Linked DNA regions of Homo sapiens. The protein of the gene in region 1 binds, or shares a complex with, the protein of each later gene. Each region holds a gene or a part of one and is shown on either strand. Other genes may lie near its edges. The genes, in order: RAB3GAP1 and RAB3GAP2.

The links.
Region 2: the proteins of RAB3GAP1 (region 1) and RAB3GAP2 are in contact, whole or in part, in a cryo-EM structure (PDB 8VYB), measured with the Homo sapiens proteins. Residues at the interface, in NP_036365.1 of Homo sapiens: Thr19, Ser21, Trp23, Glu24, Glu142, Ser143, Asn146, Leu147, Leu149, Ser150, Ser153, Ile154, Ile169, His170, Trp173, Arg174, Met176, Arg187, Asp189, Glu191, Met192, Val193, His194, Leu195, Arg196, Pro199, Tyr202, Ile211, Ser214, Lys215; in NP_036546.2 of Homo sapiens: Arg197, His198, Pro199, Gly200, Ser276, Pro277, Phe278, Asp279, Met281, Lys282, Ser285, Asn286, Ile287, Gly289, Phe290, Asn291, Ala292, Ile294, Arg377, Phe378, Gly379, Leu380, Pro381, Asp382, Arg385, Cys395, Thr397, Leu398, Arg407, Arg415.

What each region holds. Positions count from the first base shown.
Region 1 is NC_000002.12:135,126,554-135,142,795, forward strand, and holds part of RAB3GAP1 (rab3 GTPase-activating protein catalytic subunit), read left to right. Parts: intron 1-29; coding exon 30-103; intron 104-1,048; exon of another isoform or gene 1,049-1,109; intron 1,110-3,441; coding exon 3,442-3,534; intron 3,535-3,998; coding exon 3,999-4,168; intron 4,169-6,341; coding exon 6,342-6,431; intron 6,432-7,307; coding exon 7,308-7,480; intron 7,481-8,711; coding exon 8,712-8,766; intron 8,767-9,010; coding exon 9,011-9,379; intron 9,380-10,074; exon of another isoform or gene 10,075-10,202; intron 10,203-16,242. UniProt on the Homo sapiens protein: Catalytic subunit of the Rab3 GTPase-activating (Rab3GAP) complex composed of RAB3GAP1 and RAB3GAP2, which has GTPase-activating protein (GAP) activity towards various Rab3 subfamily members (RAB3A, RAB3B, RAB3C and RAB3D), RAB5A and RAB43, and guanine nucleotide exchange factor (GEF) activity towards RAB18.
Region 2 is NC_000001.11:220,182,353-220,198,594, reverse strand, and holds part of RAB3GAP2 (rab3 GTPase-activating protein non-catalytic subunit), read left to right. Parts: intron 1-2,196; coding exon 2,197-2,345; intron 2,346-3,217; coding exon 3,218-3,297; intron 3,298-3,427; coding exon 3,428-3,517; intron 3,518-5,215; coding exon 5,216-5,355; intron 5,356-7,310; coding exon 7,311-7,527; intron 7,528-8,074; coding exon 8,075-8,218; intron 8,219-8,448; coding exon 8,449-8,531; intron 8,532-8,827; coding exon 8,828-8,892; intron 8,893-12,853; coding exon 12,854-12,944; intron 12,945-14,431; coding exon 14,432-14,559; intron 14,560-15,663; coding exon 15,664-15,877; intron 15,878-16,240; coding exon 16,241-16,242. UniProt on the Homo sapiens protein: Regulatory subunit of the Rab3 GTPase-activating (Rab3GAP) complex composed of RAB3GAP1 and RAB3GAP2, which has GTPase-activating protein (GAP) activity towards various Rab3 subfamily members (RAB3A, RAB3B, RAB3C and RAB3D), RAB5A and RAB43, and guanine nucleotide exchange factor (GEF) activity towards RAB18.

The DNA.
Region 1 (16,242 bases):
GATTTTATATTTATTGGTTTGCATTTTAGTGATTTGGATCCTATTCAAGCTCCACATTGGTCTGTTAGAGTTCGAAAAGCTGAGAATCCTCAGTGTTTGCTAGGTAAGGTATATTATGCTCCTTTCCTGAAATACTGCTGATCTGCCTAACTTCCAAATCGGAGACACTGCATACATTCTTTATACTTTGTCACCTCTTCAGTTAACACCATGTAGGAAAAAAATCATTGCCAATAGCAGTGAATCCTTTTTTGAATAGTGCCAGCAAATTCTCCATTATTTTCTCATTATCTCAGCTTTATGTTTCTGATGCTTTTATTTACTTTTTTTTATTTATTTTTTATTTTTTGAGACGGAGTCTCTGTCAGGCTGGAGTGCAGTGGCATGTCTCGGCTCACTGCAACCTCTGCCTCCCGGGTTCAAGTGATTCTCCTCCCTCAGCCTCCCGAGTAGCTGGGACTACAGACGTGTGCCACCATGCCTGGCTAATTTTTTGTATTTTTAGTAGAGACGGGGTTTCACCGTGTTATCCAGGATAGTCTTGATCTCCTGACCTCGTGATCCGCCCGCCTCGGCCTCCCAAAGTGCTGAGATTACAGGCATGAGCCACCGCGCGGCCTTAAGATGCTTTTTCTTTTTTTTTTTTTTTTCCGGATGCTTTTATGTTACTCCCTTTCCTTCCTCCTGTGGCATAGTCTGCATCTTCTATTTCTGTTATTGAAGCCCTTTTTGCCTTTTGTTGCCCCTCTAGACGTGTGTTATCTGAAGAGCACTGTTTTGTTTGTTTGTTTGTTTGTTTGTTTGTTTTGAGAGGGAGTCTCACCCTGTCGCCCAGGCTGGAGTGCAGTGGCGCGATCTCGGCTCACTGTAAGCTCCGCCTCCCGGGTTCACGCCATTCTCCTGCTTCAGCCTCCGGAGTAGCTGGGACTATAGGCGCCCGCCACCACGCCCTTTAATTTTTTGTGTTTTTAGTAGAGACGGGGTTTCACCGTGTTAGCCAGGATGGTCTCGATCTCCTGACCTCATGATCCGCCCGCCTCGGCCTCCCAAGGTGCTGGGATTACAGACGTGAGCCGCCGCACCCGACCTGAAGAGCACTGTTTTTGACGGTGCGCTTTAGAGCCCTTCTATAGAGTTGTGTCACATCTGCAGCCTATTTTCTGATATGGGAAAAGAAATGTGAATAATCTTATACACCTCACAAGGTTATTTGAGGGATCAAGTGAAATAACACAAATGGAAGTACTTTGAAAAATATTAATTGCTATTCAGATAATATTATTGTGTCTTATGTCTGGGATTCGTCCCCTTCCCTTTTTTTAGGTGTATCTCTTCCATGAAGTCTTTTGAACCCATCTCCTCAGTGTGCCTTGTCATCTTTTTCCTCCTTATATTTAGTACACATGAAAATATTTTCTCCTTTTCTTTATGTTCATCCATGCTACCTTAACTCTCTATCACTTGATATATTACCATTTAACTGATGGAGTTACCAAAGATTTATTATGACAGTAATGATGCATTTCTCTAAAGCATTGTTTTCTTGGGCTCTTTATCATTCATATGCTATTTGTCAAATGCTGATTAGTAGCTGCCATTTGTGCTAACTATATAATAGTGAATACAAAGATGTATAAGGTATAAGTCCACCATTGGTGAATTTGTCTAGGGTGTTAGGGCAACAGTATAGGGTCAATGTCAAGAGTATTACAGTTGGACAGACCTCAGTTCAAATCCTGGATTCACCAGGTTGGTCAAGTTTCTTAATCTTTTTAAGCCCCAGAGTCCTCATAAATAAAATAGAGATAACACTAGTACTTACTTCATAGGGTTATTGGGAGGATCAAATGAGATTATGTACCTGTATGTATGTGTATATATCACTTTTAACAGTGCCTTTGTTATAGTAAATGAACAGTAAATGGTTTCTGTTGTTTAATCGTTGAATTACTACATATTATGTTTACGTACTAAGTTGCTTCTTAGTAACATTATTATTCCTCATCTTGTTACTGTATGGTAATTGCTGAGGACCTTAGAATTGAAAGTATTCTCATTTTAGTTTAACGTTCCATGATCTTACCCTACCTCTTTTAATATTTTGTATGACTAGATTATAGACTTTTCCTACCTTTCTGAAGAAGCCTCAAAAAAGTTATGGGTTAATTCAGAATTAGTTGGTGAATTATAAAATTTAGATGTACTTGATGTATCTTAGTACTGATAGTATTTGTTAAGCATTCATTTATTTGTGTAAACATTGTAGCTGTTCAGAAGATTCAAATCGCTTTACCTCTGTTTATAATATGACAGACAGCTGGGTGCAATGGCTCATGCCTATAATCCCAGCATTTTGAGAGGTCGAGGCAGGTGGATTGCTTGAGCCCGGGAGTTTGAGTCCAGCCTTGGCAACATGGCAAAACCTCGTCTCTACAAAAAATACAAAAATTAGCTGGGCATGGTGATGCACACATGTAGTCCCAGCCTACCCAGGAGGCTGAGGTGGGAGGATCACCTGAGCCTAGGAGGTCAAGGCTGCAGTGAGCCATGATCGTGCCACTGCACTCCAGCTTGGGCGACAGAGTAAGACCCTGTCTCAAAAATAATAGTAATAATGGGCCGGGCGCGGTGACTCACACTTGTAATCCCAGCACTTTGGGAGGCAGAGGCGGGCGGACCATGAGGTCAGGAGATCGAGACCATCCTGGCTAACACAGTGAAACCCCGTCTCTACTAAAAATACAAAAAATTAGCCAGGCGTGGTTGTGGGTGCCTGTAGTCCCAGCTACTTGGGAGGCTGAGGCAGGAGAATGGCGTGAACCTGGGAGGTGGAGCTTGCAGTGAGCCGAGATTGCGCCACTGCACTCCAGCCTGGGCGACAGAGCGAGACTCTGTCTCAAAAAAAAAAAAATAAAATAAATAAAAAATAATAGTAATAATGACGGAAAGAATACCATTAATATGTAGCAGAAACTGAAATATCTTTATCCTACATGATTTCCTAATCTTCTAGAAACATGTCTTTAGCGTTTCTTCTTAATTTTATTAATGGATTTAGATTCTAGTAGTGTAGCAGTTGGGGAAAGATTACTACATACTTAGAGTAAGTTCTTGTTACTTACATAACTTAATGACAAATGGATACTGTGTCTCATTGAGGCATATAGTAAGTACTATTAGGTACAGTTATTTTTTTCTTTCCTTCTAGATGGAATTCTAAGGAAAAGCTTTTTAAATATCCTGGGACATGGAGAGAAAGAAAAGAACAAGGCTACCTTTGATATAGGATTAATTTTTGTTTTTTTCAATGGAAAAACTGAATGGTTTTACTTTCTACCATATCTTAGTTAATAGCTTTTGTGGAAAGATGTACTTTAATTTATAGGACTGATTTTTTTTTTTTTCAGTTAAGTGTCAAAAATAACTTTTTTTCCTACATAGGTGATTTTGTCACTGAATTTTTTAAAATTTGCCGTCGAAAGGAGTCAACTGATGAGATTCTTGGACGATCTGCATTTGAGGAAGAAGGCAAAGGTAACCTACATTTTTTTTTAACATTACTTTCAAATGTCTTACTGTTTTTCCTTGGCACATTTTTCAGCAACTTTTCATCTGTTTTCTCATTTTGAATTAAGTTGGATAATCAAGTTTTGATGGACTAGACAGCTACAGTTCCTTTCCAGGCTGTACCCAGTGCTTGTTAAGACATTAAAGGCATTTAATAAGTTCTTTCCACCAAAAATGTAAAATATTTTGAAAAGCAGAGTTTTAGAGGTTAAATTTTGAAGTCTCCTAGGGAGAAATAATTTGTGTGACACCATTGTCACTCATGCTTGCACATAAAGCTGAACATGTATATTAATATTTTATAATTCCAAGACCATGTAACACTAGTAAAAAGAATGAGTAAAATATTCTATATAATCATCAATTTGTTCATCACTTTCACCTGCTGAGGTTGGTGATATAATTTATATTTATTTCTGTTCTTTTTATAGAAACTGCTGATATAACTCATGCTTTGTCAAAATTGACAGAGCCGGCATCAGTTCCAATTCATAAATTATCAGTTTCAAATATGGTACACACTGCAAAGAAGAAAATCCGAAAACACAGAGGTGTAGAGGAGTCACCGCTAAATAATGATGTTCTTAATACTATTCTCCTGGTAACTAAATGTTCTGTCTTTATAGGTCTATATGCAGAATCATTTATTCATTATATAGCCAGTTCCTTTTATGTGGTAGGCAGTGACCTTGGAATATACAATGAGTAAAACAGTTACCACATTTAGAAAATTCCTACTAGTTTAGTGGTGAGAAGGAAAGTAAATAGTAGTTGTGATACCATGTTGCATGTGAGAAATCTGGCAAGGGGGCTGTGAGAGCACAGCAGGGGTGCATTTGTCTCTGTCTGGGCAGTGGGAATCAGGGAAGGCTTCATGAAGAGGGACATTTGAGCTGAATCTTGATGAAAAGAAGGCTTTAGAAGCAGAGGAATAGCAGAGGTTCGAGAGCATGTTGAACGGTTGATATTTTGTAGGGTGCTTCCCAGACCATGACCAGGGTTGAGGCTGGAGAAGTAGCAGGTAACCTGCCATGCTGAAGCACTGGCTTTTATCTTGCAGTTTAAGTAGAAGATCAACATGATTAGAATTTTTTTATTTTTTATTTTATTTATTTATTTTTTTTGAGACGAAGTCTCGCTCTGTCACCCAGACTGGAGTGCAGTGGTGCATCTCGGCTCACTGCAACCTCCACCTCCTGGGTTCAAGCAATTCTCCTGCCTCAGCCTCCCTAGTAGCTGGGACTACAGTCACGTGCCACCATGCCTGGCTAATTTTTTTGTATTTTTTTTTAGTAGAGATAGGGTTTCACCGTGTTAGCCAGGATGGTCTCGATCTCCTGACCTCGTAATCCGCCCGCCTCGGCCTCCCAAACTGCTGGGATTACAGGCGTGAGCCACCGCACCTGGCCCCGGAAGTATATTTTTGAAGGATTGCTTTGACAACAGTTGAGAGAAAGCTTTTAGTGAGAATGAGAGGGAGATGAATAGAGAGCTAAGGTGGCTCCTAGGTATAACAGAGTGGAATGGCCCCAGCCTGGGGGCCATCCACACCATGGTTTAATGTCTGCATGACTTACTGCATGACTTTGAATAAGTCACTTCAGTTTCCTCATCTAGAAAATATGGCTAACAAAACCTTGCGAGATTGTTGTGAGGATTAAAGGATCTTCTGTGACACTGCCTGGCATATATGGGTCTTTGATAAATGATAGCTATTCTTAACTGTAATTGTGGTTAAAATCATACTCCCGGAAATTTGTGCATTAAGACAATCTTGGGAAAAACCTTCAAGAAAAGTGTTGAAAAGAAAACTGGAAACTTAATGTTAATCTTATCCCCTGCCATTTATCTGAACAAAACTCTTAGCCAACTTTTTAGCTTGTACATCGTAAGATGTAGGTAGTGATACTTAGCTCAAACAGTTGTATGAGAATAGGATAATGCTGGTAATTGTGCCTTATGGCACTTGGCACATAGTAGTTCATCTAATTTTTAAAAGTCTATTGGACATGTTCTATAATGTGTGGCAAAGTATACATAGTAAGAGGGATTACTAATCAGCAGTACCACAAAACAATTGAGAGGAACAGTGATAAAAGGACTGTAAATAAATGTCTATAGAGAGCCTCCTTCTTAAGACTGTATTCTTAAAAGAATGTTATTCAAATCATGTAGCTCAGTTGTCATGTACACTGGATTTTTTTTTGACCACTCGTACATGTACATATAAACAGAAACCACATGGAAAAGGTACATTGGTTATTATAGGTTTAGACTGCTTCCTACTTTCCAGGGGTATCATAAAATAAAGCTGTGGGTCTTGAATATCATCTCTTAGTAGTCTATATATGAAAGCCTGTGGATGATGTAACTCTTCAGATCCTCATGAGTACATGAGTGTTTTTAAATTGTCTTTTGTGGTTTTGTTTTTTAGATAGTAGTAACACTAAAAAAATGTAATGGCCTTGGGTGAGCATGAAGTCACAGTGATGAGATTTTGCTTTTGCACCTTTCAGCTTACAGAATCAAGTGATTACTTTTAAGAAAAAAATTCTAATTTCTAAAATTGGCTAGTCACTGAAACCTTGTATATTTTCAAAGAAAAATAGAAAAAATTTGAGAGTGTAGAACAAACTGGCCAATACAACTGGAACATTTCTATTGTTAGAGCAGCAAAACCATTAAAAAGTTAAATAATGTCTATATGAGTTATAAAAATCAACAAAATAGGAAATGTGGTCTAAAATGTGATTATTTTTTTCCTTTCCTTCAAGTTCTTATTCCCTGATGCTGTTTCTGAGAAACCATTAGATGGAACTACTTCAACAGATAATAATAATCCTCCATCAGAGAGTGAAGACTATGTAAGTTGATGTGGAGTTCAATGTTAAAATGTTTTAAATGCACTGAATTTCTAGAGGTTCTATATATTTCTAGTTTAATAGCTTACTATATTTTTATTTTAAAAATCACCTTGGGAATTTTGGATGGCAGATCGTGGTTTCCACTTAGATAACTAGCACAGATACATATTTTGGGTAGCAAGAATTTTTCTGGAAACAATGAAAAAATAGCACAAATATACTCTACACAGCTGTAGGATTTCCCTCATTGTAGAGTTTTGGTGAAATCATTAAATTTGTGTTTCTCAGCAGATTCTTTTTGATATTTTAAAACTAGTTAGTGAATGGACAACTCTTTAATGAAGTAAAATGTGTAAAATTAGGTAAAATTTTCATGGTCTCTTTGTCTAGTCTTTGAAAAATTAAGAAGTTGAAGAATTTAAATGACAAGTGTAGATATATATCAACCTTTACAGTAGTTATTGTTGAGAAGTAGATTTGATGAGGTGAGAGAAAAAAGCAAAGGCTTTTTACATTTTCAGTTTAGATAGTTATGATTTTTGTTTTTTCAGACGTGCTCATTTTTGTAATTAAAAGATTTTTAAAACAACACATGAAATTTGGAATACTTCCTAAATATTCCACAGAAGAAATTGAAAGCTGTAACTTTAGCTTCATTAAACTATAGCTTTATCTTTTTTAATCTTAGTAGAAATCTTGAAAATGTGGGACTTCCTAAGAATAGTTTATGCAGTAGTGTATTAGACATTTGATAATGCCTAGTTTAGGTGGGATAGGTTAATTTTACAATTAAAATCTCTCCCTACGACCTTTTCAGTTATATGTGTAAAATATTTTGGTAACAAGTTTGCTTTGTTTCTATTTTGTTAAATTTAGAATCTCTACAATCAGTTCAAGTCTGCACCATCTGACAGTTTAACATACAAACTGGCTTTGTGTCTCTGTATGATCAATTTTTACCATGGAGGGTTGAAAGGAGTGGCACACCTCTGGCAGGAATTTGTTCTTGAAATGCGTTTCCGATGGGAAAACAACTTTCTGATTCCAGGGTAATAATTTCAATTTTCAATTGTTTGGATACGATTTTGTTTGTTAGCAGACATTTGACTTTTGACCTATTTTTTCCCCCTTCTAGGAAGTCTGCCCTAAGAAAGTGGCAAGAAGCTTAGACATGATTTATGTTCAGAGGTGTTCACTGCAGCAAATTTATTAATATAATAGAAAAAAAGGCAAAACCTAAATATCAAACATAAAAGAATAGTTAAATAAATTATACTGTATCTCTACAATAGAAAATTAGATTGATTACAGTTTTTCCCCCAATAATCTTTAATAACAGATGTTCATATTGTTTCTAATAAAGTAGAATATTTTAATGCATATACAAAGTACTTTTAATTATGTTGCTATATTTGTACAGGAAAAATATTATAAATACTGTGAAATGCTATCAGTTTTTCCCAGTGTGAAATTATACTTTTATTTTGTTCTTTATACTTTTATGCATTTTCAAAGTCTTTTGTAATAAACCTGTTTTTTGTAATTGACATTTTACTTAATCAAACAGAACATTTTCATTAGCACATAGGTTGATATTGCATAGTTTAGTGCTCATCTACCCATGCTATGATAGGAGAATCATGATTTTGAGCAATATAAAATGATTACTGATCCAAAAACATTTATATCATTTGCCAATCTCTGCTTAGCTGGATTCTCTCTTGGTTTTAGACAGTCCGCTCTGGAACATTTTACAGACCCAGAAGCATGTTGAATATGAGGGAGTGCCTCTGGCTGATTGCTGGGAACCTAGTAGTCTAGAGGAACCTAGAACTAGAGACAGTCCAAGGTCCTATTGAAATACAGGTGGAGATCTTGGTTTTTATAGTGAGAATCCACTGTAAGAATTTAGTACTGAATACACAAACTGATTTATTTTGTATGGTGTGAAATACTGTATGCTAGTACTTCCTGGAGTGGGTTCAGGGGCTTTTTCTCATTTTGAGTTTTTGTTAGCCTGAAAACTATCACTAATTTGCTGTTATGTTTTGAAATATCTATTATATTTGCTATTGGTGATTTGTGGACAAGGAGTATAAAATAAATTTTCATCTTTTAATTCTATGTGCTCCCCCTCTGGAATTCACTTACCTTACCTGTGGAAATCTAGTTTTGATTTCTTATCAATATAGCTAAAAATTATGGTAGTATAGAAAATAATCATATCTGAAGCAATTTTACTAAAACTAAGCTTTCTTTTCTCCTTACTTTATTTGATAGATTAGCAAGTGGACCCCCAGATCTGAGGTGTTGTTTACTGCATCAGAAACTACAGGTAAAGATTTCTCAATGACATGGATAAATGTGGTCTTGATTTAATCAGATTATTCTAATACTAAATGTAATAATGGGTTACATGCTGTTCTCATGGTGCTGCTGTAGGTTGCCTATAGTCAGTAGTCACTGCAATTCACAAGGTCCTGAGAAGTGGAGAGTGAAAATTAAATATTCAAGCAGTAGGTAGATTTTTATTTTTCTGTAACTAATTCAACTATAAATGTTATTTCTCTTTTCTTAAGATGTTAAATTGTTGTATTGAAAGAAAGAAGGCACGTGATGAGGGGAAAAAGACAAGTGCTTCAGATGTCACTAATATATATCCAGGGGATGCTGGAAAAGCAGGAGACCAGTTGGTGCCAGATAATCTAAAAGAAACAGATAAGGAAAAGGGAGAGGTAGGAAAATCTTGGGATTCCTGGAGTGACAGCGAAGAAGAATTTTTTGAATGCCTAAGTGATACTGAAGAACTTAAAGGAAATGGACAAGAGAGTGGCAAGAAAGGAGGACCTAAGGAGATGGCAAATTTAAGGCCGGAAGGACGGCTCTATCAGCATGGGAAACTTACACTGCTGCATAATGGAGAACCTCTCTACATTCCAGTAACCCAGGTAGGATGCACTAGTTCTTTCCATTTTAATTTATTTTGTGGTTTATATAACTTCATCCTAGTAGAAGATAGTGCTTTGAGTAAGGAAAATTATCCAAAAAGTCTATGTTTAGGCCAGATGCGGTGGCTTACGCCTGTAATCCCAGCACTTTGGGAGGCTGAGGTGGGCAGATCACCTGAGGTCAGGAGTTCAAGATAAGTCTGGCCAACATGGTGAAACCCTGTCTCTACTAAAAGTACAAAAATTAGCTGGGCACAGTGGCGCACACCTGTAGTTCCAGCTACTGGGGAGGCTGAGGCAGGAGAATCATTTGAACCCAGCAGTGGGAGGTTGCAGTGAGCCGAGATTGCACCACTGCACTCCAGCCTGGGCAACAGAGCAAGACTCTTGTCTCAAAAGAAAAAAAAAGTGTTTATGTTTAAAGATAAAGATATAGACTGTTTAAAGAAACTAAAGGTAAGGATTTCCCAATGACATAGATAAATGTGGTCTTGATTTAATCAAGGACCTTTAAAAGATTGGACAAAGTCTATGTTTAAAGATTAAAGAAATCTAAATAAACTTTTGGGGCTTTTAGGTTTGCCATTTCTGTAATTGAGAAATGTTTTGAAGTTTAAGTAGATCACGTCATCATATATAAGGTGATTTATAAACTGAGCAGTGAATGCTCAGATGTTTAAAAAAGAAAATCCAACTGCACTTATGTATGTTTTTGTTTAACTTGTGGACAAAGACTTATGGATAGGTGCAAAAAATAAATCCTCTTTTGCAACCCAGAACTCATTGTTCAGTATGAGTTTTGATACATATAAGAAGGGATATTATGATACCTGAGACAGTTAACTGATGGGAATATTGATAGCCATAAAGGTTGGTCCCAGACCAGGCACAATGGCTCAAGCCTGCAAGCCCCACACCAAGGTGGGAGTATTGCTTGAAGCCAGGAGTTCAAGACCAGCCTGTATAAGAAAGTAACAAACACCTCATCTCCACAAAAATTTAAAAATTAGCTGAGTATTGGGGCATGTGTCTGTAGTTGCAGCTACTCAGGAAGAGGAGGCTGAGGCAAGAGTATTGAGCCCAGGAGTTGGAGGCTGCACTGAGCTTTGATGACACCACTGTACTCCAGCCTGGGTAACAAAGACAGACCCTGTCTCTTAATTAAAAAAGATTGATTCTAGGACTGTGGAAGAGATAGTTAAACAGCATGGGATATGAAGGAAATCCTCAGCAGTATTAATTTTGCATTCCAATTTCATGTTGACTTGATACCTACGATGGCTTTTTGTTTTAAAGGCTTTTATCTTGAGAACATGATGTCTGTAGTTAAAGGTATTGGCGTATTCCACACATCTGTACTATTCTTGAGTATGATCGCTTAGGGTGTCAAATTGAGAACCAGGCAGATCCACCACCTACAGTAAAAAGGACCCTAAAGTAAATTGGTTGAAGAAGTTAGATCCCAAAGATTCTTGGTGAATTTTGAAGTCTTCATCAGTATATCCATATTAAAAGGAGATGACAGAAGCCAAAATAAAAGAATTATGGGCTAACAGGACAGCTGGATTAAAATAAGCATCAGTTTCATTAAAAAGGGCTAACTTGAAGATAAATCTTTTGACTCCAGCTCTTTAGAGGATCTGAAGTGACCTTGATGGACAGTGGAAGAAATCACAACATGGAATTACTTGAACAAAAATTTATTGACTTAAAGAAAAAGAAAAAATCCAAAAATATATAGAGAGAACAAAAGTAAATATCCTTCAATTATATGATTAGCTTTTATCTGTTCAAAAATAGTTTGAAGTCATATACACCATTAGGATGTAGAACAGCAATAACTCAACAACAACAGCAGCAATAGTTGTTTTTAAGGGTTTTGTTTTGTTTTTTTTTTGTTGTTTTTTTTTTGACACAGAGTCTCTCTTTGTCACCCAGGTGGGAGTGCAGTGGCATGACTGTAGCTTACTGCAGCCTTGACCTCCTGGGATCAAGTGATCCTCCCACCGCAGCTTCTCAAGTAGCTGGAACTACAGGTGCATGCCACCATGCCTGGCTAATTTTTCGTGGTTTTTATAGAGGTGGGGTTTTGCCCTGTTGTCCAGGCTTGTCTTAAATTCCTGAACTCAAGCCATCTGCCTGCCTCAGCCTCCCAAAGTGCTAGGATTACAGACATGATCCACTGCACCCGGCCTGAAAACATTCTATTGTGAAAATTGTAATCTAGTAAAAATGAAAGAGGCTCAACGCCTGTAATCCCAACACTTTGGGAGGCCGAGGTGGGGTTGGATTGCTTGAGCCCAGGAATTCAAGACCAGCCTGGGCAACATGGTAAACCCTATTTCTACCAAAAAAAAAAAAAAAAAAATTAGCCGACTGGGGTAGCGTACACCTGTAGTCCCAGCTACTCGGGAGGCTGAGGTAGAAGAATCAATTGAGCCCGGGAGGTTAAGGCTGCAGTGAGCTATGATTGTGTCACTGTTCTCCAGCCTGGGCAACAGAGCAAGACCCTGTCTCAAAAAAATAAAAAGTGAAAGCCACCATCCACTAATTTTGACTTGCATTCCTTGAAGTAACTAACAAGTATTATTGGTTTGGGTTATATTTCTTATAACTGTTTCTCTGCATTGATGTATAATACATATATGTGTGTACATATTAATACATGGTTTTATGGATTTTTTTTTTTTTTTGGAGACAGGATCTCATTCTGTTGCATAGGCTGGAATGCAGTGGCATGATCATGGCTCACTGCAGCCTTGACTTGCTGGGCTCAAGTGATCCTCTGACCTTAGCCTCCTAGGTAGCTGGGACTACAAGTGCTCACCACCATGCCAGGCTGATTTTTTCACTTTTAAAATTTTTGTAAAGATGGAGTCTTGCTATGTTGCCCAAGCTGGTCCTAAACTCCTGACCTCAAGCAATCCTCTGTTTCGGCCTCCCAAAGTGCTGGGATTATAGGCATGAGCCACTGTGCCCAGCCTCAATTTCTTATAAACAATTGGTATTACCAACCATATAAATTTTTGTTAACATGATGGTCAAAAGTAGTATCTCAGTGTTTTAGATTGTATTTTTCTGAATTTTCATGAACCTGAGCATCTTTTAATATGTTCGTTAGCCGTCCTTTCCTGTGAATCGCCTATGATTTTTCTTTTAGGTTGCTCCCCTGTTCTTATTGATTCATATGAATTCTTCATATTTTAGATGTGAATCTACAGTTATATATATTGTATATGTTTTCTGCTAGTCATTTTAAAAACATATGTTCATGTATTTACTTAATTATTGAGTTATAACTTAATACAATAAAGTGTACAGATCTTGGCTGGGCATGGTAGCTCATGCCTGTAATCCCAGCACTTTGGGAGGCCAAGGTGGGCAGATTGCTTAAGCTCAAAAGTTCAAGACCAGCCTGAGGAACATGACAAAACCCCGTCTCTACAAAAAATACAGAAATTAGCCGAGCGTGGTGGTGTATGGCTGTAGACCCAGCTACTTGGGAGGCTCAGGTGGGAGGATGGCTTGGGTCCGGGAGGCAGAGGTTGCAGTGAACTATGATTGCACCATTGCACTCCAGCCTGGGCAACAGAGCAAGACCCTGTCTCAAAAATTAAAAAAAAAAAAAATAAAAAGTGCACAAATCTTTAGTATACTGCTTGGTGAATTTTTTCATATTGATACATGCATATAACTACTTCCCAGATCAAGATACAGAAAATTCCCATCATCCTAGAACAGTGCTGATAAATAAAACTTTCTGTGAAGATGGAAATTCTCTACATTCTCTGTCTTTCCCATTCAATACAATAGCCATTATCCAAATGTAACTACTGAGTGCTTGAAATGTGGCTAATGTTTCTAAGGAATTAAATTTTTAATTTTAATTTATTTAAATTAAATAGCCAGATGTATTGGATAGTGAAGCCCAGGATTCCCCTCCAGCAACTCTTTCTCTTAACTTTTGTCACCATAGGTTAGCTTTGTCAGTTTTTGAACCTTTTAAATGGCATGCTTTGCTTACTCTTTTGTATATAAATGTAATCATACATTGTGTACTCTTTCGTTGTATAATCATACATTATATACCATTGAGCTTTTTTATTTACCGATTTTGAGAGTCATCCTTGTTGTTGCAGGCTTCAGTGTTTGTGCATGTGTTATTAGTATTCTATTCTATGAATTTGTCACAATTTGTTTATCCATTCACCCGTTGATGGGTATTTGGGTTGTTTTCACTTTGGGCTAATATGAATAAAGCTGCTGTGAACATTCTTGTTTCTTTTGGTAGACAAAGGCACTCATTTTCTTTTGGATATATTCCTAAGAGTAGAGTTATTGGGCTATATGGTGCAAATATGTTTTGGCTTTAGTAGATCTATCTAAATAGTCTGTCTAAGTGGTTGAACTAGTTAACCTTCTCACCAACAATTTATAGTAGTATAGTTATTCTACAGAATCCTCCCCATTTGATGTGTTCTCAAGACCACTCCCAGGTTTAGTGATTTTCTAGGAAGACTCATAAGACTTAGCCCATAATCATGCTCGTGGCTATAATTTATTACAAGAAGATCAGCAAAGAGAAAAGGCACATGGGATGAAGTTTGAAAGAGATGAGGTTTAAGCTTCCAAAAAGCTTCCCCTACTGTAGTTACACAGAGTGCACTTAATTCCTGTTGCAACAAATTGTGACCACATGTGTGAAATGTTGTCTTCCCTGGGAAGCTTGTTAGAGGCACAGCAGTGGGAGTTATCAGTAGGGGCTGGTCAAGTAGGCATCCTTTGCTTAGGCATAGGGTTAACCATACCAAAATCTAGACTCCCATAAAGAAAGTAGGTGTTTAGCATAAACCATATTATTTGCACAAAGTGTTTAGGCATAGTGAGTCATTTTTATCAGTTCTGGGAATGGTGGGAACCTTCTCAAAATCCAGGTTCTCAGCTGCCAGCCAAGGGCCAACTTTCAAGCAGGCCTTTCTAAGAATGGCAGTCTCAGACCTGCAATATTAACTCTTTTCTGCACACTTGATATTTTTGGTCATTTTAATTTTTGCCTTTCTGAAGGGTAGGAGGTAGGATCTTGTGGTTTTACATTTTCCTGAAGCATATATATATTTATTGCCCATTTGTCTATCTTCTTGGTGAAAAGCCTGTTCAAGGCCTTTGCCTATTTTTTTCTTAAAGCAGTTGTCTTTTTTTTTCTTATTACTTTATAGGAATTCTTCATATATTCTGGATATGAGTCCTTAGATACTTGTATTGCAAATATTTTGTTGCTTATCTATTCACTTACTTCTTTTTTTTTTTTTTTTGAGACAGTCTCACTCTGTCATCCAGGCTGGAGTGCAGTGGTGTGGTCTCGGCTCACTGCAGCCTGAGTCTTCCGGGTTCAAGCGATTCTCCTGCCTCAGCCTCCCGAGTAGCTGGGACTACAGGAGTGTGCCACCATACCTGGCTAATTTTTTGTATTTTTAGTAGAGATGGGGTTTCACTATGTTGGCCAGGCTGGTCTCGAACTCCTGACCTCGTGATCTGCCTGTCTGGGCCTCCCAAAGTGCTGGGATTATAGGTGTGAGCCACCGCGCCTGGCCTGTTCACTTTCTTAATGATGCCTTGGGTTGAAGAGGTGTTCTTAATTTTAATACAGTCTCATCTATCCTTGTTTTTCTTATGTGGTTAGTGCTTTTTGTGTTCTGCTTAAGAACTCTTTACCAAGTACTGAAGATATTTTCTTTTCTTTTGGAAGCTTTATTGTTTTACCTATATCATTTGTTTGTGACCCACCTCAAATTAATTGTTTGGTAAGAGGAACAGGTTAAGATTCTCTTTTCTCTATAGGGAGATTGAATTGTTCCACCACCACTGTTGAAAAGATCTGCCTTTTCCCATTGAGTGGCAGTGATATCTTTGATGTAAATCAAGCAACTGTATGTGTTTTGGTCTATTTCTGGACTATTTATTCTGTTCCGTTGGTCTCTGTCGTGTGCCAGTAATGTACTGTCATCATTATTGTAGCTTTATAATAAGTCTATCTGGTAGTGTAAATCTTCTAACTTTGTTACTCTTCAACATTATCTTAGCTATTCTAGGTCCTTTGCATTGTTATATCAATTTGAGAATCAGCTTGTTAATTTTTATAAACAAACACATATTCAAAATCTTGCTGGGATTTTAATTCAGATTGCATTGAATTTGTAGATCAATTTATGGAGAATTGACATCTTAATATTGAGTCCATTAAATATCTTCAATTTTATTTAAAGTTTCTGTTCATTTATCTCATTAGTGTTTTAGTTTTCAATGTAGAGGTCTTACATATCTTTCATTAGATATATTTCCAAGGTATTTGTAATTTCTTAAATGGTTTTATAAATGGTATTTTAAAAGTTCATTTTCCAATTTTTTTCCCTTGATAGATATAAACAGTTGATTTTTATATATTGACCTTGGATATAACAATCTTGCTACATTGACTTATTAGTAGTTTAGAGATTATTTGGAGTTTTCTACATACACAATCATGTCGTCTTTTAGTAAAGATGATTTGAATTCTGATTTTGCAATCTTTATGCTTTTGAATTACTTTTCTTATCTTATTGCAGTGGCTAGGACCTCCAGTACAGTGTTGAATACTGGACATTATTCTCTTGTTCCCAACCTCAGAAAGAAAGCATATGATAGTCATTGAAGGCACCTGATGTAGATATCACTTATCATATTAAGGAAGTTCCATTCCTAGTTTGCTTAGAGTTTTGTTTTTTGTTTTTTTTTTAATCATGAACAGGTATTGCATTTTATCAAATGTTTTCCTGTATATTAAGGTAATCCTATTTTATTCTCCCTTATTCCATTAATGTGGTTAA
Region 2 (16,242 bases), on another chromosome or scaffold:
AGGGCGAGAAAGAGAGATGTAAATAAGCCATACCACCTTAAGTTAATGAAAAATAGTGCTAAAATCAGTGACTCGAAAGATAAAAGCCCCCTAAATTCAGTACCAATGTGTAGCAATATAAAGGGCAGAAAAACACTTTAAATAATACTATAGGAATGTGGTCAGCTGTAGACTGTGGGAAATTAGTCTCAAACAGCCTTGTTGCTTCAACAAATAGATTTCAAAGGATCGAGGATGGGAAGGAAGGGTTGAGGAGGTCAGAAGGATTTTGGACCAAGCTTTATGTCCATTTGTTTGTGGTTCTTACTTTGAAACCCAGAGGTATTGTTTTTCTTAGCAATGATCAGCTATTTTGCTTCAAGAGCAGAGAATGCAGAAAGTTTAGGTCAACCAAGATTAAGATTTAGCCAGAGGAGTATGTGTGTAGGGGGAAACGAGTGTAGGGAGGTTGTGGATATTTGCAAGAAAGTGATGATGATGGAACACAAAGCTAAGCTGGATGGAAAGGGAAGTGATCCCAAGAGGTACTTGATAAATAGTGGAAAAAATAGTAGGATTAATTAGTTTAAACTCGAAATTGTGAAATTACTGCAGGGAGTTTCTGGAGTAATTGAGATGGAAAGCTAGGAGGTGGTGGTCTAAGTGTGGTAAGCTTGAAATCAAAAATACAAAGAATCTACAGTTGCTGATGACAGGATCTAAAGTGTGACATTGAAAATAGATGATTTAAGTTATAGGAAGGAAAACATCATTGGTAGCAAGGATGGAAAGGATTGATCAGCCATTTCCTTACAATAAATTAGAATCCTTTAAAAAAATTGCATATCTATTGCAAAATTGTCCTCTGGATTACTGTGTAGTAATTTATACTCCCATGTATATTGCATGGGAGTTTAAAAAGAAGCTGTTTTAAAACTTAAATTTCAATTTATGTGCCATATAGTTTGCCCTTTGATCGTGTTTTGGTGGAGTCAGGCAAAACTTAAGCAAATTTTGTAATGTAGTGAAAACATTTTGTATACTGAATCATGGATTCATTCATGACTATGAGATAGGTGTTCTGATCTTTTATAATGGTCTAGGAGGTGGGAGGGGAGTTTAAAAAATAGTCCAAGGATTTGTTTGATCACTTTAATTCCTATAAAGCCAGTGAATGGCTTGCGTATGAACTCACTCAAAGAATTTCCTTTCCTAGGACACGTCTTAAGGACGAATGCATTTTTTGACAGTTTTCAGGCAAAGGGGAGGCCTGAAATATATGTATATGAAATTTAGTAAGGTCAGGCACAGCAGCACACGCCTATATTGGCTGGGCACAGTGGCTCACACCGGTAATCCCAACACTTTGGGAGGCTGAGGCTGGAGGATCACCTGAGGTCAGGAGTTTGAGACCAGCCTGGCCAACATGGCAAAACTTCGTCTCTACTAAAAATACAAAAATTAGCTGGGCATGGTGGTGCGCGTCTGTAATCCCAGCCATTCGGGGAGGCTGAGGCAAGAGAATCGCTTGAACCTGGGAGGCAGAGGTTGCAGTGAGCTGAGATTGCACCATTGCACTCCAGCCTGGGCGACAGGGTGAGACGCCATCTCAAAAACTAAAAAAAAAAGAAGTGAATTGGTATTTGGGGATATAAGTGGACTGTATACTTCTGGTACCTCTGAGTTTCATATCTGTTCAAAAAATTAAATTTTGTTTTTATGATATTCTATAGATTATGGAAATTATAGATGGAAATTTTAATATTTATTATTATTATTTTTTTGAGATGGGGTCTCGCCCTGTTGCCCAGGCTGGAGTGCAGTTGGTGTGACCTCAGCTTACTGCAACCTCCACCTCCCAGGTTCAAGCAATTCTCCTGCCCCAGCCTCCCAAGTAGCTAAGATTACAGGCACCCACCACCATGCATGGCTAATTTTTGTATATTTAGTAGAGGCGGGGTTTCACCATGTTGGCCAGGCTGATTTCAAACTCTTGACCTCAAGTGATCCAACTGCCTTGGCCTCCGGAGTGCTGGGATTATAGGAGTGAGCCACCATGCCTGGCAGAATATTTTCTGATGTTGACTTTGTAGCTTTTAAAATGACTTTTGGTTATTAAATAAAACTAAACATTTAGCATCTTAGAATGGAACTGAAGTAAAAATGTAATGACCGCAATAACATTGTACATTCAAATCACTTTTTTTTTTTTATTAGGTATTATGACTCTGTCCCCCTTTGATCAAATGAAGACTGCCTCCAATATAGGTGGATTTAATGCAGCAATTAAAAATAGTCCACCTGCCATGTCTCAGTATATCACTGTAGGGTCCAATCCATTTACTGGCTTCTTCTATGCTTTAGAGGTATGAGTTTTATCAATGATCATGAGTAAGGCTGCTCTTGATTTTACAATTTGTCTACAAATTGGATATGGTAACTTGCTTAGCCTTAGAAGATTAAGCAGTTTACATTTCTAAATTTCAATTGAAACTAAAATTAATCTCAACTAGCTTTCTTCTAAATTCTTTAGATTAACTGAAAAGGTACTACCATCAGTATAAAAGGAAATTCTTTGTTTCTGAAGCCCTGAGTTCTTTGATAGCTGAGATGTCTTTAAATATTGGTGCAATAGTCAGGAGCTCAGGCTTGTTAATGATGCCAGCCCACTAGGGATTTGAGTAAATGAGGAGTTGTAAAGACAGAACAAGCTGCCAACTATACTTGTTATAAGTGGTGAAAATTGCTTCCTAAAATAGTGGAAAGTTGAGTGTTAGATTTGGCAGCTCTTGTTTCTCACTTAAAAAGCATGCTTCTCAGAATTGTCCAAAATATCTTTTTACTTTTATAAAAATGTGTGTGTGTATATGTGTGTGCATATATATATATTTAAAGAGAGAAAGGAGCCAGTTATGTGTAGGTGTGAAATCCATAGTCCAGCTAGAATAATGTAATCTTAATGTCCTAGTTTAAAATTTATTTGAATGAAATTACAATTTAAAGAGAGAAATTCTAATGGTAAAATAGACTAATTGTGATTTTATTTTTAAACTATAGAGTTAAAACTTTTTCTCATATTACGCCTAAAATAAACTTTTTACTGTACTCTGAAAGAAGCTGAGTTGCTAGTCCAGCCTTTACAACTTTTCAAAGCATTTTAAAGTAAGCTTTATTTAGAAAGTATGTTTGTTTCTTTGTAAGCTACTAAGTTTTCTCTTTCAAATGTTCTGTTTTTCAGGGAAGCACACAACCATTATTATCCCATGTTGCACTAGCAGTTGCAAGTAAACTCACTTCTGCTTTATTTAATGCTGCCAGGTAATTACTTAACAATTAAAATAACAAATATCTCATTTGTATCTAGCTTGCTTTTAACTTATATTTTGATAGTTTGCACTTTAAAACCCTGGAAGCTCAGTTTTATATTCTAAGTTTTCTTTCTTTTCAGTGGTTGGCTTGGTTGGAAAAGTAAGCACGAAGAAGAAGCTGTCCAAAAGCAAAAGCCGAAGGTTGAGCCAGCTACCCCATTAGCTGTAAGGCAAGTCTGTCATGCTTCCCAAATTTTAGTCCTTTTAGAAAGGTACTGTTAAATGTATGGTCTTTCCGTGTGCTTGGTTGATTTGCTGATCTTGTCTTTGGAACTTCTGAAAGCCATTACAGTGGAATTTCTTTTCCCACTAGAATGTAAAACTCCATGTGAAGAGTGATTCTTACCTGTTTTGTTCACAGCTTTATCCCTGTTATATACTAGGTATTCAAGATGTATTTCTTGAGTGTGCTTTTTAACAAATAAACTTAGCTTAGTTGTAGGAGAATTAATTCAGTGATAGCTGTTAAATTTCTTTTAAAAGTTTAGATAGTTTGTTACTAAGTTGTATAAACTTTAAAAGTACTTAGTGATTTCTTTTTAAAAAAGTCATCCTAGTGGATTGCGGTGGCTCACGCCTGTAATCCTAGCACTTTGGGAGGCCTAGGTAGGCGGATCACTTGAGGTCAGGAGTTTGACACCAGCCTGCTCAACATGGTGAAACCTTGTCTCTACTAAAAATACAAAAATTAGTCAGGCATGATGGCATGTGCCTGTAATCCCAGCTACTCCGGTGGCTGAGGCAGGAGAATTGCTCAAACCCGGGAGGCAGAGGTTGCAGTGAGCCGATATTGCACTGTTGCACTCCAGAGTGGGGGACAAGAGCGAAAAACTCCATCTCAAAAAAAAAAAGTAAAAGCAGGAGTCCTGTATTCAGGCACTCTTTAAACAGACTCCTGTCCTGTGCTTCCTTGTTTACTTCAGTAGTGCTTTAGAATGTGTTAGTATATTGGTGAGTTTTTTTTGGTGGAGGGAGCATGATTTTTGTTGCTTTTTTTTTTCATTATTATTTTTTAGATAGGAGCATGTTTTCTAATGTTTGGTTTTGTTTTAAAATCATTTTTTATTACCTAATATAAAGTACCACCATGAAGGGAAATAGAACACCTCCTCTTTATGGATGTTCTTCACCTAAGAAGAGCCAACTAATTATTAAAATTTATCGAAGTATAGCTTCTAAGTTTTTTTTCATCTTTTTAAAAAATACATTGTAACATATCACATTTCCTAATATCAAGAGTCAATAAATTAGTCACATGGCCCTGTGCGTCTCTAATAGATGTAACAAAGGTTGGGCACCTTTGTTTCAGGGACTTTTCTCTAAATGAGCTTTCCTAGTTCTCTTTTAGTACTTCTTTACTTTTATTTTACTCACAATTCTAATGAGGTTGATTATAGAACAACAGAAGTTTAGAGATAACTATTTAGAAAAAGGAAGGTTTTTGCTTCAGGCAGATTGGTGTCAGCAGGATGTCATATCTTGCAAAAAAGAGAAAGATTAAGAAGAAGAATTTAAAATAGACAAAAGATGCCTGTGTGGGAGCATATTCTAAAATTTAGTTGATGGTGAGGACATTGTTTTCTGTGACATGCCTTTTAATCAAATATAGTTATACTTTATATTCTCTAAAGGTATAGGGTTGTGGGTATCTATTGAAAACCTACATAGGACTGTGGTTTTATTTCTTTTATGTATTTTATATTACAAATGTCAGTTGTGATTAATAAATTAACTATTAATCCAGGTAAAATTCATATTTCTTTATATAAAAACAGATTCAGCCTATTTCATTTATGCATTTCGTTATTCTGTTATATGTTTCTGAACTGGAATGTGATTTGAGCATTTTATTTTCTTTTAAATATCAGATTTGGACTTCCAGATTCTAGACGCCATGGTGAAAGCATATGTCTGTCTCCATGTAACACACTGGCAGCAGTAACAGATGATTTCGGCAGAGTTATTTTATTGGATGTAGCTAGAGGAATTGCAATACGCATGTGGAAAGGTACTTCTTACAAAAATCCAGAAAAACAATTAATTCACTTTTTACCCCAATAGTTGAGCAATGTTATCATCCTTCAGCTTCTGGATGATAACTCTGTTTAATTCTTCATGTTTACATTTTCTTTTTTTGACATGAACTCAGATCAGCAACCACTTGGTCCAGTAGTCAGTTGATACATCTTTTAGGTTTGATCACCTCATAGCCATGTTTAACCTTTGCCTTTTGCACTTTCTTTCAATTCTCACTGTTATTGTCAATTTCTGAGTTCAGTTTCTTGCCCCTGCTACATTTATTCCCCTTCACAAAGCCATTCTTGAGCCAAATGTTCTCCCCAAATCTATAATGCCAAGTCTTTCAGATTTAAGATAGCAAAACCCATCTTCACTGACTTGACTTTTATATCCATATGCTTGGGTCAATCCACCTGGTGTGTCAATAAGTATGTCACTTAGGAGTTTCCTTCAGCTATTATTAACAGACCTGAGTAACAGACCACAGTATCTTCAGGAACCCAGTCTTCTTCCTTGTAGCTTCCCCACTCAAGGTTCTCATAGACAGCCCTCTTATCTGCATTCCGGGAAGGAAGCAGAAAGGAAGAAGGCTTCTCCTGGCAACTGAGTCAATCTACTTTGAAGATATTCCCCGAAGTCCCTTCAACCATTATCTACATTAGCCAGGACTTAGTGACATGGCCTCATCTAACTATAAGGGAGACTTGAAAATATCTTTTAACTAGGCACATTGTGAATAATATCTCCCTGACTAAGAAAGAAGGGATGATTACATTATTTAGAATCATCTGGAATAGTAACATGTCAGCATAGACCACAATTTATGGTGCAATCTTGTCTATCCTGTAAAATGTGAGGAATAATGAATGGATTGAGGTCATTCAATTACTCTGGACCAGATTGAAGCCACTATCACCTTCTTGCCAAAGAACTCCTGCAGTGATAGACAGAGGCAGTCTTTACCTACTACATGTCTCAGTATCTGTAGAAATAGTTTTAATACTGCAGATACATCATTTCTCCTTGGTGTTTGTCTTCTGAAACAATATCAAAGGTATGTTCTCAGCAAGACTTTTCTAAAATACGAAGACGAAGCTGTACTGACTGCTCCAAATCCACTATGGCAATCTTATTCCTTGCATCATTGCCTGTCTGCAGCTAGTACAGCCAGTTTTTCTTTCCATTGTGTCCTTGGAAAGAAGGATCAATTGCCTATGTGAGGGACCACCCTAAAATGGAAAATAGCATCAGCTACGTCTCCCATGCAAGAGCTTCCTCCCATCGTCCTGTAACCCATATTTTCTATCTGCATGTCACCAAAAGGCTTGTGTGGGAAGGGAAGGGAATGAGAGCAGGAGGGGTAATCAGGTGGCTTCAATTATATCTATAATCTTTTCTCTTTTTTTTTTTTTTAGAGAGTTTCGCTCTTGTTGCCCAGGCTGGAGTTCAATGGTGCGATCTGGGCTCACTGCAACCTCCACCTCCTGGGTTCAACTGATTCTCCTGCCTCAGCCTCCCAAGTAGCTGGGATTACAGGCATGCGCCGCCATGCCTAGCTAATTTTTTGTATTTAGTAGAGACAGGGTCTTACCACGTTGGTCAGGCTGGTCTCGAACTCCTGACCTCAGGTGATCCACCCGCCTCAGCTTCCCAAAGTGCTGGAATTACAGGCATGACCCACTGTGCCCAGCCAATATTTTCTTTTTAAAGAGAAAAAGTGGTCAGAAGTAAATATAGCAAAATAGTAAGATTTGATAAGGCTGGGTGATAGACTGGTTATTATTTATTATCATTTTTTATTTAAGATATTCCATAATAAAAAATATACTTTTATAGCTTTTCTTACCCCACCCCCACCCCCACCCCCACTATTCCAGAGTACTTCAGGAGGCTACTATGGAACCTAGATTAAGTAATTAACTTCCCTTTACCTCTGTCTCTAAGGGTACCGCGACGCACAAATTGGATGGATTCAAACTGTAGAGGACCTCCATGAAAGAGTGCCAGAAAAGGCAGATTTTTCCCCCTTTGGAAATTCTCAGGGTCCAAGTCGAGTAGCTCAATTCCTTGTGATCTATGCGCCAAGAAGGGGAATTTTAGAAGTGTGGAGCACACAGCAGGGACCTAGAGTAGGAGCTTTCAATGTGGGGAAGCACTGCAGGTAAGCTGCAAATGCTGGCATTGTGCTGGTTACAAAATGAAATATAGGAATGCTTTTATTAAAATAAAGCTTTACTAAAGCTGCTTATTAGATTACAAGTTTGAGAATTACAATATTCTTTATTGTGGTTTTTCCTGTGAGTGCCTGGCATGTACTTAAGTATTTAATAACAAAAAAAAAAAATTAAAAATGCCATGATAGACTGCTGAATTAAAGTTAGCTTGTTGCTAATGTTTGTCCCTTACTTATGCTGGGAAGGCTCAAAAGGAAAGGTTCCTTTTGCCCTAGTCATAAGTGAGGTGAATGCTTTGTTTGCCATTGAAACAGGGGCCTGATTGTGTTCATTTAATTTTTTAGAATCTTTCAACAAGGCAGAACTCTGCTGGTTGAGCCCTGCTTTACTTATGTACTTGCTATCAGTATTTAGTTGCCTTATTAATGCTCCTAAATTGATAATAATGTTGGGTTTCCTAGCTATAATAAAAGCACCTTTTGGCATTTCTCCTTGTTCTAATATTTTTACCATATTGGTATGTGATTTCTTTAGGCTGCTGTATCCTGGCTATAAAATAATGGGTTTAAATAATGTTACCAGTCAGAGTTGGCAGCCACAGACTTATCAGATCTGTCTGGTTGATCCAGTGTCTGGAAGTGTGAAAACAGTGAACGTTCCCTTCCATTTAGCACTGAGGTAAGGTGTGTCCAGTGTTGCTGATTGACGCTCCTCTGCTAACTTTTCCTAGTTCCTAGGTTTGTTGTACTCTCTTTTGTAGTTGCTATTTTGTTGTTTCCTTTGTCTTTAGACTGATATCTTTAAAGTTAAATAGGAAATATATAAAGGAAAAAAAAGTTGGAGTGTGTCAGAATTAGAAAGAAAATAATTTCACATTCTGTAATAATTTGTTATATTTATTGGTTTAGTGATAAGAAGAGTGAACGAGCCAAGGATATGCACCTAGTGAAGAAACTAGCAGCCTTACTGAAAACAAAATCTCCCAATCTTGGTAGGTATTCTCTCATACAAATAATAAAGCATATTGTTCTATCATCTTTTAAATCAATAAAATATTCTGAATGGAGCAATCAAAATAATGCATGGATGAGCTTATTGGAATTGCTCTGTAAGGCTGAAGTGTGCCATCTAGAGGGTGTTATAATTCATAACAAGAAAACATTAATGTGAGAGAACCCAAAAATCCTTTAGACTCACTGATAGTACAGATATGTTCATTTTCTTTCAGAATAATGTTTCACTGTTATAAAAATTAAAATTTTACTTTGATTATTTTTTTCTTTATAGATTTGGTTGAAACAGAAATAAAGGAATTAATTCTTGATATTAAATACCCTGCAACCAAAAAACAAGTAAGTGTATATAATACACGAACTTTCCTGCTAGTAGCTATAATACATCCTTCTTAAGAAAATCTTTATTTTCCTATTTCCCCCAAACATGAGAGGCTGAAGTCTTCTTTTCACATTTTTATTGTTTATCCCTTTCTTTATTTTCAGATAGAAGTTCCTGTTGTCTCTTTAAAAAAAAAAAAAAAAATTAATATTCATGCCTGTAACTGTAATCCTAGCACTTTGGGAGGCCGAGGCAGGGGGATCATGAGGTCAGTAGTTCGAGACCAGCCTGGCCAACATGGTGAAACCCCGTCTCTACTAAAAATACAAAAAAATTAGTTGGGTCAGTATTGGCGGGCGCCTGTAATCCCAGCTACTCAGGAGCTGAGGCAGGAGAATCATTTGAACCTGGGAGGCGGAGGTTGCAGTGAGCTGAGATTGCACCATTGTACTCCAGCCTGGGTTGCCATACATCTGAGTGTGTTTTATATACACATACCTACACATCCCTACATTATATATATTATATATATAAAATAGTAAATATGTGTGTATGACCACCTACCTTAGGAAATAAAATCTTACCAGGAACTCTAAAGAGCCCTGAGTGTCCCCCCTCAGTCCCATTCCCTTCTCCCATCCCTAAGGTAACTGTAATTTAGAATTTTGTGGTTCTTTCTTTTTCTTTACTTTATAGTTACGTCATTCCTGTGTGGCTCCTTTGAAACCTGTTGATGCATTTCCTGCCTTTTCAAACTTTATATAAATGCAGTCATGCCCTATGTCTTCTGTGACTTTAGTTTTTCCTTCAGGATTATGTTTCTGTGTCATTCATATTGGTGTATGTAGTTATAGTTATAATTGATTCATTTACTATGCCATACAAATTCTGCTCACTGACTAGAATTTATTTACACTCCTGTCAGTGAACGGTTAGGTTGTTTCCAGATTTTTGACATTACAAATGATGCTATGCTTATCCATGTACATATTTCCTCATTCACATATGCAAGAGTCTCTCTGGCGTTTATACCTAAGAGTGGAATTGCTAGGGTGTGAGCTTCTTCAACTGTACTAGTTGATGGCAAATTGTTTCCCAAAATAGTTGTACTAATTTATATTCCCACCTGTTCTGTATGAGTCCCTGTTACTCCACAGCCTCAATATTCCATGGTATTGCCAGACCTTTACTTTTTGCCAGGCTCGTGGTTATAATATGGTCACCACTGGTGATTTCTTTTACTCCCACTCCTCCTATCCAAACCCCTCATAATGCTATTCAAGTCCTAACTCCACAAATTCTTACATAATGCTTCGATCCCCATGGATAACTCTGAACTCCTACTCTACTTTCAATCAAAACTGGATAGTTAATGACTACTTATTTTCTAATTATTTCATGTATGTTAATCATAGCTTCCCCGACTTTTTTTTCTTTAGGTCTTTTAAGCTCCTTCAAGTAGGAACCTTACCAAATACTTGATTTTTATAATTCACAGCATCTAAAATAATGCTACTGTGAAAATGTAAGAAAAAACTGTATCACAGGTTTTTTCTTTTCTCTTACACAGTCACTCGACACTTCTGCCACTAGATGTAGGGTTTTTTTTTTTTTTCCCACACACCAGTCAATTTCTTTGGCAGATTCTCCAGCTAACACCAGCTGGTTATTCTCTAATTCAGTTCGATTCTGACACCATCTACCTGGAGATAGCATGAGATCATCACGACAGGTTAAGAGCTCAGTCCCACAAGACTTCTACCTACTTCAGGTACCAGTCACAAGTAGTTGGTTGTCAGCTATATTTCTGACTGTCTAGCTATAAATTAGGGTTACTATGACCCCCTCTTTGCGGTTGATGAATTTGCTAGACCAGCTCACAGAACTCAGGGAAACGTTTTACTTGAACGTTTACCCATTTATTATAAAGGATATTACAGAGGGTAGAGATCAACAGCCAAGTGGAAGAGGTGCATAGAGTAAATCATATGGGAAGGGTTGCAGAGCTTCCATTCCCTCTCCTGGCAAGCCACTATTCAGGAACCTCTACACGTTCAGCTATCCAGAAGCTCTTCCAACCCTTGTCCTTTTGGGTGTTGATGGAAGCTTCATTATATAAGCATGATTGATTACATCATTGGCCATTGGTGATCAACTCAGTCTTCCAGCTCCTCTTGGCTCCCCAGAGGTCAGGGGTTGGGCTAAAAGTTTCAATCCTCAAATACATGGTTGGTTCCACTGGTAACCACCCCCTTATTCTGAAGCTCTCCAGGAGCCTGCCATGAGTGGCCTCATTAGAAAAAAAGAAGCTTCTATCACCCAGGAAATTACAGAGGTCTTAGAAGCTCCCCATCAGAAATGGGGGGTCAAAGACCAAATGTTAGAACAAAAGGTTCTCCTAGCACCTCTGTCTACAAAGGGATTAAGAGCTCTGACTGATGAACTAGGACAGAGACCAAACACTAGAACAAAAGAAACTCCTAGCACCCCCATTGTTCAAGAAATTATAGGAACTCTGTGTCAGGTACTGGGGCCATAGACCAATATGTATATTTCTTATTATTTTATAGCTACATACATGGGAGAATTCAGTGAATAGTGATACATGGGAGAATTTAGTGAATAGTGATTTCTGTTGCAGTCCGTTTTTAAAACACTTTATTGAGTTATTGTAGAACAGAAAAGCCTTTGTGACTTTTAATTGTGTCTTCCATTCTACTGACAATGCTAATTGGCTCTCATTTTGCTCAGGGTAAAGTCTCTGTTATTAGAGATGACATGATGATGACAAAGTGGGCATCTAGAGAGGCATATTGAGAAATCTGTAGTAGAAAGGGTCATAACCCACACGGTTCTTCTCATTTTTATGCCATCTTTCTTCTTATCCTAAATCATAGAACAACAAAATTGGGAAACCAGCATAATGCAAAATGTCTTCTTGATTTTCTTTTTTTTAATGGTACTTCTGAATCATGTATGAAGCTGTGAATTTTATAAAGAATGCTAGAAAACCCAGTAACAAAAGTTATAGGTCTTCTAGGACTGACTAAAGGGAAGGAAGAAACCAGTTCAGGCTTTGGGAGACTGTTGAATAATGGGGAAGAAAACAAGCTAGCTGCTAGCCTGGGTAATCATAGGCAGAACTGGAGCAGGTTATGCTTGTCCTGGGTTCTGGCCTCTTACAGTCACTTTCTTTATTGTTTCCTGGTAGTTACTTCATTATAGGCCTGACCAACATCTTGAGCCACCCTCTAAGCCCATTTCTCCTCCACAAACACGCAGAGGTTATTGTGTTATGATCGGATATTTGTCTTATCCCACATTCTCAGCCTACTTTTTGAACTATTTAATCTCATTAATTAAAACCCAACTTAATGTGCTAATATGAAAGGATAAATATGACCTTTAACTTCTGATAGTTGCTACTTTAGGCATGAAGAGATATTTTGGGACTGGTTATGAAGAATCTTAAATATCTATGGGGGTGGGGAGAGGGAGGTAGGGAAGGGTGGGTACTGTATTCATCTAGCAGGGCCTATAGATTCTGCCTGCCATGCACAAATGCAATAATTAAGGTATAACTAAGTTTTTGGCAGCTTTTGTTATTGACATGACAATAACCTCTGCTTTTCGTTTATGCCTATATAGTATAGGCATATTCAAACTCTTCTTATTGGTAAATAGCTTTATCTTTGTTTCTGTTTTGATTTGGCTATTCTGTTAAGTAGCAGTTGCCTTCTAGTTGTTTTATTCTCAGCCTGGATTTTTGTCATTTATGTCATATTTGGCATGACATGAAGTTGATTGTATATTACTTAACAACGCAACTTGAGATTTAATATATGTACACTAAAACATCTTAAATATAGAGCTTCCCTTTGAAATTTGGGGTAGTGAAAGTTTGGGCATAAATATAAGATTTAAAAAACAAAATCACTGCCTTATAATTACTAGAACTGTTCAATATCTTTCTCCTAGGCTTTGGAAAGCATTTTGGCAAGTGAACGTTTACCATTTTCTTGCCTTAGAAACATCACTCAGACTTTAATGGACACTTTAAAAAGTCAAGGTAATAGGGTTTGTACTGATTGGAGGTTATGTTCTTAACTCAAATTTTGTAACTCTGATTATAGAAAGCTATTGACTTTGTGATACCATCATGTTACTTTAATGTGGAAGTAATATAGATATAAGAAATTAAGAATCTTATTTATTCCCTATTTAATATATGTAGTTGATCTTCATCTAAGCTGTCTTTGAATGTATTGACTGTTATTGGGAAGTTGTTTTTAATTGTGAGGAAAGATGTCAGGATAGAATGATAAGTGGTTATTCTGATATAGCTTTGTATTAATGTTCTATCAGTGTATCAGTTTCCCTCGTGAACAGAGTTAAGGACTTCCAGAATCACAATCAACAATCAGATTATTATTTCTGAATTTTCTGGTCATTTTTTGATATTCAAAATTTGTCTGTACTATCACATTGTTCTTTAAAATCCATCAGTCCGTCAAAATGTATTTGTCTGAAAAAGGATTACACTTGAAACTTGAAACTGTGGGGTTGTAACACCATATTCCATCCAACTGAACTAGTAAAAATTCACTTTATTCTGAATTCCTAACATCAGTTAAATTGTGTGCAGTGGACTGATGTCATCTAGTTGTGACTTTTGTTTGTCATATTAATTATGTAAAACCAGCTTTGTGTTTTAGTTGTGTGTAAGACAGCTTAAAGTGGCTTAATACACAAATTATAATTTGTTCTTTCAGGACTTCAAACATGCTAATTTTGAGACTCTTTTTCAACCTTTTTTTTTTAACAGATACATAAAACTGACATTGGCAAATAGTGAACTCCTTTAGCATACACCACTTGTCAGAAATAAATCCCTCTTTTAAAAAGCGTGGTATACTTACAAAGCCCTCCCACCCCTCAAGGCATTCACAACATCCCAAAATTTATTAAATGAAAAGTTATCTTCCACTGGCCTGGTAGTAAACCAAACACCATTGTTGGAATTCCATAAAATCATCAGTTTCAAGTTCTACATAAACATAAGATTCCTAAAAACTTTAATCATTTTGTGTGGTCAGTTTTATTATGGCTATAAGAACTTGAACAATATTCCATGATACTGTATTTCAAATAAGATTTTGAGGGGATTATCAGTGTCTCCCTTTTTAAAGAATAAATATTTCTTTTATATTAGATATAAATATTCATACAGTATATGAATTATGTAGTCAGGGAAAATATTTTCAAAGGTATTTCCAGATAATTTCTTTAAATTTTAAGTATTAGATGAAGATATTTCCGCTTCCTTTTTTATCTCCCTACTTTTAGAGCATCTTATTTTATTTAAAAAGTTAGACATTTTGTCATGACAGAAAAATTATTTTTGCTTTCAAAACCTGGTATAGCTTAAGCATCTCAGTATTTAATACATCAGAGCATCAGGGAATTACATAATATTGAGAGATTTAATGAAAGCAAAGCCTGTTTATGAGTCTGTTAAATATATCTCTTATATATACTTTTCCTTCTGCCTTTTAGAACTTGAGTCTGTTGATGAAGGATTGCTACAGTTTTGTGCCAATAAACTAAAACTGCTGCAACTCTATGAGTCTGTCAGTCAATTAAATTCCCTTGATTTTCATTTAGACACACCATTCTCTGATAATGTGAGTAATCCCACATTTTATATTATATAAAATAATCTCTTTGATTAGTTTTACTTTTTAAAATTAGTAGTAAAGAAGTAGAAAATTAAGAATTTTTTTTAAAGCTTTAAAGGTATATTTTCCTTACCAAGCCCCCTGCTAGCTCTCTGTGCTTTGCTGCTATATTTATATTATTTATACAAGTGCTGAGATTATAGGCATAAGCCACTATGCCCAGCCATGATATGTTTTTGTACATATAGTATATAAAAATAGTTTGAAAGCCTAGCAGGTTGTATCCCTGAGAGCCACATACAGGACTTATATGTAGATACAATGAGAATATTTTTCTATGTTTTTATTTTATAGTGTTTACGCTGCTTTATAATTAAGCATTTAAGTTCAATATTTAGTTTCCTCAGAATAGTAAGAGTTGCGTTTGACACCCTTTTAAATTTTTTTCTGATTATACAGTAATACATGTTTATTAAAATTCTAGCATTTGCCAAGGCATAGTGGCTTGCACCTGTAACCTTAACACTTTGGGAAGCTGAGGTGCGAGGATCACTTGAGCCCAGGAGTTCGAGAGCAGCCTGGGCAACATAGTGGGACCCTGCCTCTACAAAAAAAAAAATTTTTAATTAGCTGGATGTGGTGGTGCACACTTGTGGTCCCGGCTACTCAGGTGGCTGAGGCAGGAGGATTGCTTGAGCCCAAGAAGTCAAGGCTGCAGTGAACCATGATTGTGCCAAGGCACTCTAGCCTGGGTAACAAAGTGAGACCCTGTCTCAAAAAAAAAAAAAAAATGCTAACATTCTAGAAGATAATAAAGTACCCTCAAGAAATATCCTAAAATGGTACTTTTAATACCATTTCTTTTAGTACCTACCTCTAGTACCATGTTTGGTTTGGTACCAAACATGCAGTGTTTCAAAATTATAGTTTACTTTATTTAAATAACTTCCTACTCATGAAACGTGATTTGTAAGTAAAGTTTTAAGCAGAATACATGATAGGTATTATATTAATTAAAAAGTCGACTTTTGCTTACAGCCTTGAATTTCAGTTCAGATAATGTGGGTGATAGATGTGGAATGTTGTTTTGTTTTGTTTTCTGTTTTAAAGGACTTGGCTCTGTTACTAAGGCTTGATGAAAAAGAACTGCTTAAGCTCCAGGCATTACTAGAGAAATATAAGCAAGAGAACACCAGGACAAATGTTCGATTTTCTGATGATAAAGATGGTGTGTTGCCTGTAAAAACATTCTTGGAATATTTAGAATATGAAAAGGATGTGCTCAACATAAAGAAAATAAGTGAAGAGGAATATGTGGCTTTAGGTAGGTAAAATAATACACTGGTCTTTGTATGCCTCTTCTTTTAGAAGAAAACATGGTAGGAACATATAGCATCTCAGAGATTCCATTTGTTTTGAAATTTAAATAATGAAAGGATTTAATGTACTGTATTTTTTGGCCAACAAAAGATACTCTGGTCAACAGGTTGTATTAATGAGTATACTAAAGAGACAATATTGGATCATGATTTGCTTTCTGCTTTAATAAATCAAGCAAATTGAACAATTAATTTCTCTTCCTTCATAATGTTTTGTTTCTCTGGAATTCCAGATTGTGATTCAATAAGATTGTTAGTCCAAATGGTAAGTAGTCATTGATTAATGTGCTTTGTTTTTCTTCTACCAGGT